Linked DNA regions of Homo sapiens. The protein of the gene in region 1 interacts with the protein of each later gene in a pairwise test. Each region holds a gene or a part of one and is shown in the gene's direction. Other genes may lie near its edges.

Evidence for each region. The genes of interacting proteins can lie anywhere in the genome.
Region 2: the proteins of CSN3 (region 1) and ZNF76 interact in binary tests that used the Homo sapiens proteins (3 or more experiments, as listed by UniProt).

The regions. Positions count from the first base shown.
Region 1 is NC_000004.12:70,247,785-70,253,228, forward strand, and holds the end of CSN3 (kappa-casein precursor), read left to right. Parts: intron 1-33; coding exon 34-66; intron 67-1,213; coding exon 1,214-1,675; 3' UTR 1,676-1,709; intron 1,710-3,477; 3' UTR 3,478-3,648; downstream 3,649-5,444. UniProt on the Homo sapiens protein: Kappa-casein stabilizes micelle formation, preventing casein precipitation in milk.
Region 2 is NC_000006.12:35,280,235-35,283,734, forward strand, and holds part of ZNF76 (zinc finger protein 76), read left to right. Parts: intron 1-821; 5' UTR 822-917; coding exon 918-990; intron 991-3,500. UniProt on the Homo sapiens protein: May be involved in transcriptional regulation.

The DNA.
Region 1 (5,444 bases):
TTTCTCATTATTTCTTCTTCTGGAACTCCCCAGGCTGTGGAGGTTCAAAACCAGAAACAACCAGCAGTAAGTCTATTTTAATTACTTCTGTTACAGGCATGAACTACAAAATATATTCTGCAAAGGTCAATTGTATTATAGATGCCTTCTGTCTAAAACCTAAATATTTCATTTCCATAAAACAATCTAATAATATTTGCAAGAAAATAATTTCAGCAACAGGTGATATGAATCAACATTGATGTTCATCTGAAAGTTTTATTTTCTTATATAACCCAAATCATGTATCTTTGGTTTTCATGTATATTTAGCAATATGAGAAAACTCTTTCAACATTTCATATTGGAAAAAAATGAAAACATAAGTAAAGCTTAATATTTCCCCTTTCCACTTTTTAAGACAAGGGAAGATCCTTTTCTGACCCATCTTTGAATACTTCTCATACATCTATATTTACTTCCCCTTTCGTTTCCCAAATATGTTTGAATACATTTAAATGTGTCTCGTTTTAGGAGAAATGTTTGCTTTGTAGTATAATTTTGTCAATTTATTTCTATTCATATGGAAAGGTCTACTGACAAATTTTTAAACAGAGGCACATAGATATAGACAATTCTTTATCTAATCTTTTGTGAAGAAAATTAAACCAAAAAAAATCCAAAATCTAAATCCAGGAATCTCTCCACATCACATTATGTTACTATTCTGCTATAGTTTAGGAAAAAATAAATGTGCTCTTGGGCTAATTTTTAAATGAATAAAATTTGAGACCAATTACAAATATGTGGTGAGAATACATACGTGTGTGTGCGCCATTCTGTGTGTGTCTGCATGTTGTGCTTGTGTATAACATGTCAAAGTTCTCAATGAGATTTTTCTCTGTGTTGTACCTACAATAGCTAACATATAAGATCACTTTCCATATATGCCAATCTCTGGGCAATATGGTTTACATTATGAATAAACTCATCTAATTTCTTGAAACAAATATTATATTAATATTATCAAAATAATATTTATAATATTGAAAATCATAAAGTGGAAAGGCAATGTACAAATCAACATCTTATAAAATAATATTGCTGCTGGGTTCCATACTTCTAATATCTTACTCAATGGTAAATACTATATTATTTCAAAAAATGCAGATTTAAGGTATTTCCACATTTGGGTCTATAATAATAATATTCTGTATAATTTATTTTTTTTGCAGTGCCATGAGAATGATGAAAGACCATTCTATCAGAAAACAGCTCCATATGTCCCAATGTATTATGTGCCAAATAGCTATCCTTATTATGGAACCAATTTGTACCAACGTAGACCAGCTATAGCAATTAATAATCCATATGTGCCTCGCACATATTATGCAAACCCAGCTGTAGTTAGGCCACATGCCCAAATTCCTCAGCGGCAATACCTGCCAAATAGCCACCCACCCACTGTGGTACGTCGCCCAAACCTGCATCCATCATTTATTGCCATCCCCCCAAAGAAAATTCAGGATAAAATAATCATCCCTACCATCAATACCATTGCTACTGTTGAACCTACACCAGCTCCTGCCACTGAACCAACGGTGGACAGTGTAGTCACTCCAGAAGCTTTTTCAGAGTCCATCATCACGAGCACCCCTGAGACAACCACAGTTGCAGTTACTCCACCTACGGCATAAAAACACCAAGGAAATATCAAAGAACACAACGCAGGTAAATTAACAGTATATAAAATGAGTAATTCCGACAAGAAGCATGGATTTATGAATACAACCATAAATTCTAAAATAGTACAAATAGATAAACTAAGTGTGTTACAGAAGCAGACAAAACAGGGTACTTACAGTTTTACCTTGGTAAACCCATAGCATTGATACACCAGATTCTGTTCCAACTAGAAATTTAAAATAATTTTATTTGACAAAGTGAAAATAATTGGCAACTTCATTATCAAACTTTTTTCTGACAATTGGGACACTCTTAGAATGTAATAGTTTTATTTCATCCTTATTCACACACAAACTATGACAGTAGAGTAAAACAGCAAGTAACATTTTCATGATATTTCAAAAATAATTTTTAGAAGAAGTTATATAGAATATGAGTTTGAGTAAATTTTAATTCTGTAACAATTCTCTTGCACTCTCATTGTAGTATGAACAGAGTAAAAGGAAATGATATGCTTCCATGCATTTCTTTATTTCAGACATCATTTCCAAAATGATTCATGAAGTTAAGCCTCTCAAATTTCTCCTATTCTAAGATAAACCCATGGAAGAATTATAATGCTTAACTTGAAAAACACATAAATATTAAAAGGATACTTTCAGAACACAATGTGATGCAAAGTGTTACTATTTATTACTTGGACCAATGGATAATGGCAGAATATAAAATAATTTGAAACTTATGAGAAGAATTTAAACAAAGAGAATGATTAATAAAGTGGAAAATATCCAAAGAGTGTAAAATAATTTGGGGAGAAAGTTGCAAAATGTGGAGTTTCTTTACAACAAATATTTTCAGTCCATCAGATGTCTACATGTTTTATGATCTAAAATACCAGACAATGGTCTGTGATATCATGGGACTACCATTAGCCCAGAAAAGGTTGCTTCTTTCATCTGCTTGCCTAATGACCATAGGCTGGTCATTACTTTCTCTGAACTTTTATTTTCTCATAATTCTGGTTGCTATAAGACTCAAGAGAGAATGCACATGGGAAAGGATTTTAAAAACTGATCAATCTGTAAAATGTCATGTATTGGAAAAGATAAAGTAAAATTCATACCAGTATCCTAAGTCTCCACTAAATGATAAAAACCGTACATAATTATGTCTGTTGATTCCCATAGTAACCATATGAAACAGATATTATTCCTATCTCAAATTTAGGGATAAAAACCAGTAGGACTGAGGACATTAAGTAAATTATCACAGCTAGAAATTGCAAATGGGAGGCAAACCAAACCTGTTTAATTTCAGATAGTGGGGTTTAATTACTATGTCATTTATTTTTATATGGGCTGTCTAACTTGCTGAAAAACAGGGAAAATACACTGTGATTTCCTTAGACTAGCATATGGGTAAATTGTGTTGTTTAGTTGCTGTTCAACAGGATATCCATTAAGAAAAAGAGAACAAGAGCTGGTTAAACAGCTGGCTTATTATATTTTGGAGAACAAAATAAGAAAATTAATAAAGACAACATGAAAGCAAGTTATTTAATAAGTAGTTACATATTTTACTGATGCAAAACATAAAGAAGCATGTAAAAGAGTTTTTTCTGTAAATATTACATAATGTCTATTATTTTCAGTTTACTATATGCCTATTTTAAATATTTAAGTTTAAATATGTAATCTGATTGACTTATTGGATACAGACATGAAAGAAAAATTGTGGAAGCTAAATAAATATATATCATGAGAACTGTTAACATACTATGAATAAATTTCTAAACTATCATTATTTTTTATAGGACTTGCTGAAACCAAATTACTACTTCACACTCTCCTTCAGCCATTTGTCTGCCTTCAGTCAACAGAAAATGTGATTTTCACAGATTCAGCTCTTCTCTCCTTACATTTTACATTCATGCCACATTCAATATTTTGATTCTTGCACAATAAAGCCAACTGATTGCAACTGATTCTTTGAGAGGAGTTTGCAAAGGTACCTCAGGGATCTCTGAAACTTTGAAACGCTATGACAAATTTAGTGTGAGTTAGAGTACACAAATTTACCTAAAGGCAGTGCTCATAGTTTCATCAGGTTCTCAAAGTGGTTCATGGTCTGACACTAAGAATTTCTCCTCTAGGATGACACTGGGACCAGAGAAAAGCCAAGCCATAGTGTTCCAATCCAGGGGACCACAGAGTGACTCTTGAGAGCCATGGGAACTCTAGAGTTAGCATTAAATTTAAGTGACCAAATGTATTGCTAACGTTAGTCTAGATTATTCCTGAGAGCAAATTCTGGGCACAGGCAAACTACAAATGTCCAGAACTACAAACACAGATACGTTGCAAAATTATAGATGTTGACAGAGACTCTAAACATGCATGACCAGATTTCCCCACACTGGACTCCACAGTCTCACATCTGTTCAAACACACACACACACCCCCACACCCACCCACCCACCCACACACACACACACACATCACACACCAGAAAGCTTCTGGAATTCAGGTATTCCAGTTTGGAAAAACTCGTGAATATTCAAGGTCCAAGGATAGGACATAGTTGTTTTCTTAAACAAATATTGCAAGGAAAATCAGGTCACCTTTGTGCTTGGTCCATATTTAACACATCATGCCAGAAAAAATAAAATTCACTCAGCCCTTACAAAATGTTTACTGGTCACCTATCTAATCTTCTGCTGTGACTCCCAACAGATGTGCTATTATTAGGATTGATTTACAGTGTTTTACCTGCTCTCTCACTCAAATAGAGAGTCTTGAACAGAGACATGGAAGGAATATGGCATGGCTAGACCTTATTTGCTATGATCATTAATGATATTATTAATTTCTTAAAAAACAAAGTAAATATGTGGAAAAGGCAAAATTTATATCATTAATTTAAAATCTTACCACCTATTATACACAAGGTATTATAAGAATTATTGTGATAATACAAACAATATTAATGGCTGATAACAATAAGCAACAAGCAGTTATAAAGTACATACTATTTGCCAGTCAATCTTCTATTTGTTTATATGTATTTACTCATTTAATATGTAGTCATGAACTACATATATTTATTCTTGTTGTTATTATAAGTGAAAGAGAAATGAAGTAATTTTCCCCACGTGAAGCTGAGATTTGAACTCAAAGTCTTGCTTTAAAGTCCATGCTCTTTAAAAACTGACACATGGACCAATGGAACAGCATAAAGAACCCATAAATAAAACTGAATGTATTCAGTCAACTAATTTTCAGCAAGGGTACAAAGAAGACACAACAGCAAAATTATAGTCTTTTTAACAAATGGTGCTGGGAAAACTGGATATCACAGAAAAAGAATGATATTGGACCCATATCTTACACCATACACAAAAATCCACTCAAAATGGGTAAAAGCTCAATGTAAGACCTGAAACTTTAAAATTACTAGAAGAATACCTAGGGAGAAAGCTCCTTGACATTGGCCTTGGCAAAAATTGTTTCGGATATCACACTAAAAGCTCTGGCTACAAAATCAAAAATAAGTAAATGTTCTCCCTCATAGGTGGGAATTGAACAATGAGAACACACGGACACAGGAAGGGGAACATCACACACCGGGGCCTGTTGTGGGGTGGGGGGAGGGGGGAGGGATAGCATTTGGAGATATACCTAATGTTAAATGACGAGTTATTGGGTTCAGCACACCAAAATGGCACATGTATACATATGTAACTAATCTGCACGGTGTGCACATGTACCCTAAAACTTAAAG
Region 2 (3,500 bases), on another chromosome or scaffold:
ATGTTAGAACATGAGTTGGAAGAGGCTGAGGCAGGAAGATCACTTGAGCCCAGGAGTTCGAGGTTACAGTGAACTGTGATGGAGCCACTGCACTCCAGCTGGGCGACAGAGTGATACTTTGTCTCTAAAAAAGGAAAGAAAAGAAAATGAATTGGAAACAGACAAAAGTTTATCTGAGGACATAAGTTATAAGGCTCCTTATAGTTGTCCAGAGGTGAAAGGTGAGACATGCCTGAAATAAGTACCTGGACTTTTAAGGGAAAAGGAGGACTCAAGCATGATCCCCCCCCCCCCCGCCCTGAAGTTCTGGGTGGAAGGCGATACCACCCCTGGGATAGGGGATACTGGAAGTACAATAGTTCTGGAAGGTTGGGACACATTGTGAGTTCTGTTGAGGACTTATTCCACGTGTGGTACATGTGGGATGTTCCCTGAGGATGGTTAACAAGCTCAGTAGATAAATGGGTCCGAGCACAGGAGAGATGTTGGAGTAGGCAGAGAGAACCATCAGCAGTGGGGTTAACTGCCTGCCTTCAGCAGGGCTCCTTCCTAAGGGGAGAAAGTTTAGAAATGGGTTTTGATCAGTGATTTCTTACTTTATGACCAGTTTGATTGGCATGCTTCTCTTCTATGCTTAACTTTTAGAATTCTTAGATAATGTGTATTTTGAGCCCTTTTCATAAAAACCAATATAGTTCACTACTTTGAAGAATTCATCTTTTTTCTTCTTGGCTGGCTGGCCTCATTAACTCCTTCCCTGAGTGTCTTTGCGATAGGAGAAAGCTGGTTAACTCATAATGTGATACTGTTTATTTTCTTAGATTTGTGACCCAGAAGGAAATCTCTGACCTCAGCTGTGGCTCTTGGTGCTGGCCAGAAGCCAACTTCATGTCTGAGTGCACGAGCAGCAGTTTGCCATGGAGAGCTTGGGGCTGCACACGGTGACCCTTAGTGATGGGACAACAGCCTACGTCCAGCAAGCTGTCAAAGGTAAGTATTTCTGGGGACCTCAGGATCCTGCCCTGTCCCTCAGCCTCTGGAAAGGAGTGTCCATTTCTAAGAGTCCCACCATCACCTTGCCCTCCCGCCTGCTTACCCTTGCCCACCACCACAATTTGCTCTGCATTAGAATCTCCTGTGGTGCTTGATGAAAAGGGAACTCTAAAATAAAATGCTACAAGTCAGACAATCCCAGTCATAGGAACCAATACCTCTCAAAGACAGAATTCCTAATATGTAATAAGCAGTTGATAAATATTTCTGGAATGAACACAGTGTTAGTTATGACTCCCTGCTTTTCAGATATCCCCTGTCACAGTTTTTTAGTGCTTTCTAGAAGCAGTTTATCATCTTAATTCAAGTATATTCAAACATTCAAACTACTAAGCATCTGCCATGTACAAGATGCTCTTTTAAGCCAGGCATAGTGGCTCATGTCTATAATCCCAGCACTCAGAAGGCTGAGATGGAAAGATCACTTGAGGCCGGGAGTTGGAGACCAGCCTGGGCAACATAGCAAGACTCTTGTCTCTAAAAAAAATAATAAAAATAATAATCTGGGTGCAGCAGCATGCACCTTTAGTCCCAGCTATTCAGGAGGCTGAGGCAGAAGGATCACTGAAACCCAGGAGTTTGAGGGTTCAGTGAACTATCACTGCACCACTGCACACCAGCCTGGGTGACAGAGCAAGATCCCATCTCTTAAAAAAAAAAAAAAAAAAAGATACTCTTCCTGATTCAGAGAGGAACACCCAAGCAGAGATCTCATGCCCTAATCCCCACTAGGGGATGCCAGAATTGAAAATATAGGACATGTAGTTAAATTTGAATTGGACGTAACAATGAATACTCTTGTAGGATACATACATCCCAAATGTTGTAGGGACGTATGTATACCACATACTAGGGACATACATATACCCCTTATAAGGGATAGACATATATAAATGTGGGATTAAGCTGGGCTTGGTGGCATGCACCTGTAGTCTCAGCTACTTGGGAGGTTCAGATGGGAGGATCTCTTGAGGCCATAAGTTTGAGGTCAGCCTAGACAACAGCAAGACCCCATCTAAAAAAAAAGTAGGGGGTGTTAAATACTATAAAATACTAAAATAATAATACCAAGTTCTAAAAAAAAAAAAAAAAGTATTGTTTATCTGAAATTCAGATTTACCTGGGCATCCTGTATTTTATCTGGCAATTCTATCCTTACACTGAAGGTACTTAAAATCAAGGTAGGTGTGGAGTCAGAATAAAGTGTTTAGGGCAAGGCCTGCAGGCCAGGGACACTTTTCCTTTCTTGCCAGTGTTCTCAGGCAGCCAGATAGCATTCGTGTCTTCCTTGGACAGCACCTTGAACAAGGCAAATACTGCCTTGTTCCTACTGTTCATTTGGCGTTTTCTGGACTCCATGATTGTCACTGTCCTCCTGAAGCACTGTCATTGCAACATTGCCCTCCTTTATTTCAACACACTCTCAGAATATATTTCTGCTCCTAAGTTTACAGATAAGTTGTTTATTGATTTCATTTTAAGTTGTCTGTTTCCTGATGATGACTAAGGAGTCCCCTTAATCTCATCAGTAAGCACTTTCCATATGACAGTGTGTGGGGGTCCCTTCTGGAAAGGTTTCTTGTCAAGAGCTGTCTGTGACATGTGGGTTCTTGTTGGCTTCATCTTCTTGAGAACGCAACTTCTCTAGAATGCTTTTGAAGCCTGAAACTCTCTGTTTGCAGACTTCCCACTCCAGGTCTTGCCCCTCCAGTGCAGTCTCCATGGGATGGAAGAACTTAGAACTCTAGCTAGGGTTGTGTTTACTCCTTGGACCCAGTTAGTTCCCGTGCCTCAGTCTTCCACTGAGAATTAATGGTCAAACAAATGAATAAAAAGCAAGTGACCACACCTGACCTGAGAGAGCCACTCTTTCCTTATATCTATCCTTCTTACGTATTTCTTTATTCTGTCAGTCTTCCTGGCTGTTCTTTGCCCACTCTGTAGTGTTGCAGTGTGCACTTACACACACACATATGCAAACACACACTCACTCACAACAGATTTTCCCTCTGCTCAGGGTAGAGCTCTCCTTCAGAGACCAGAACCACACTTTCCTGAAAGGCTTCTCTGACTTCTCCTCTGAAGCTTTTGACTGAGGCATTTTTGTCTCTGTCTGCTGGAAGCCCTAAAATTGTAAGAGACTTATCTTTAATTAGGATGAGTATAAAATGTATTATTCAAACCCAGCATTTTAAAAGTGGAAGAATGTGCTATTAATAAATGCACTAGGACTGTTCCAGGCAAACTGGGGCGTATGGTCACCTCTCTGTAATGGGATATGAGGCCCTTGTCAGTCAGCTGTTCTCCCCACTGCCTCTCTCCATTGTAGTCTCTGGTTGTTTGAGGAAATAGTAGGCTAAGTTTTTTCTTCAGACAACTCTTCTCAACATTTTGTTTTCTACCTTGAAGCAGTACCCACTCTGCTGGCCGTAGCTTGCTGATGCTTT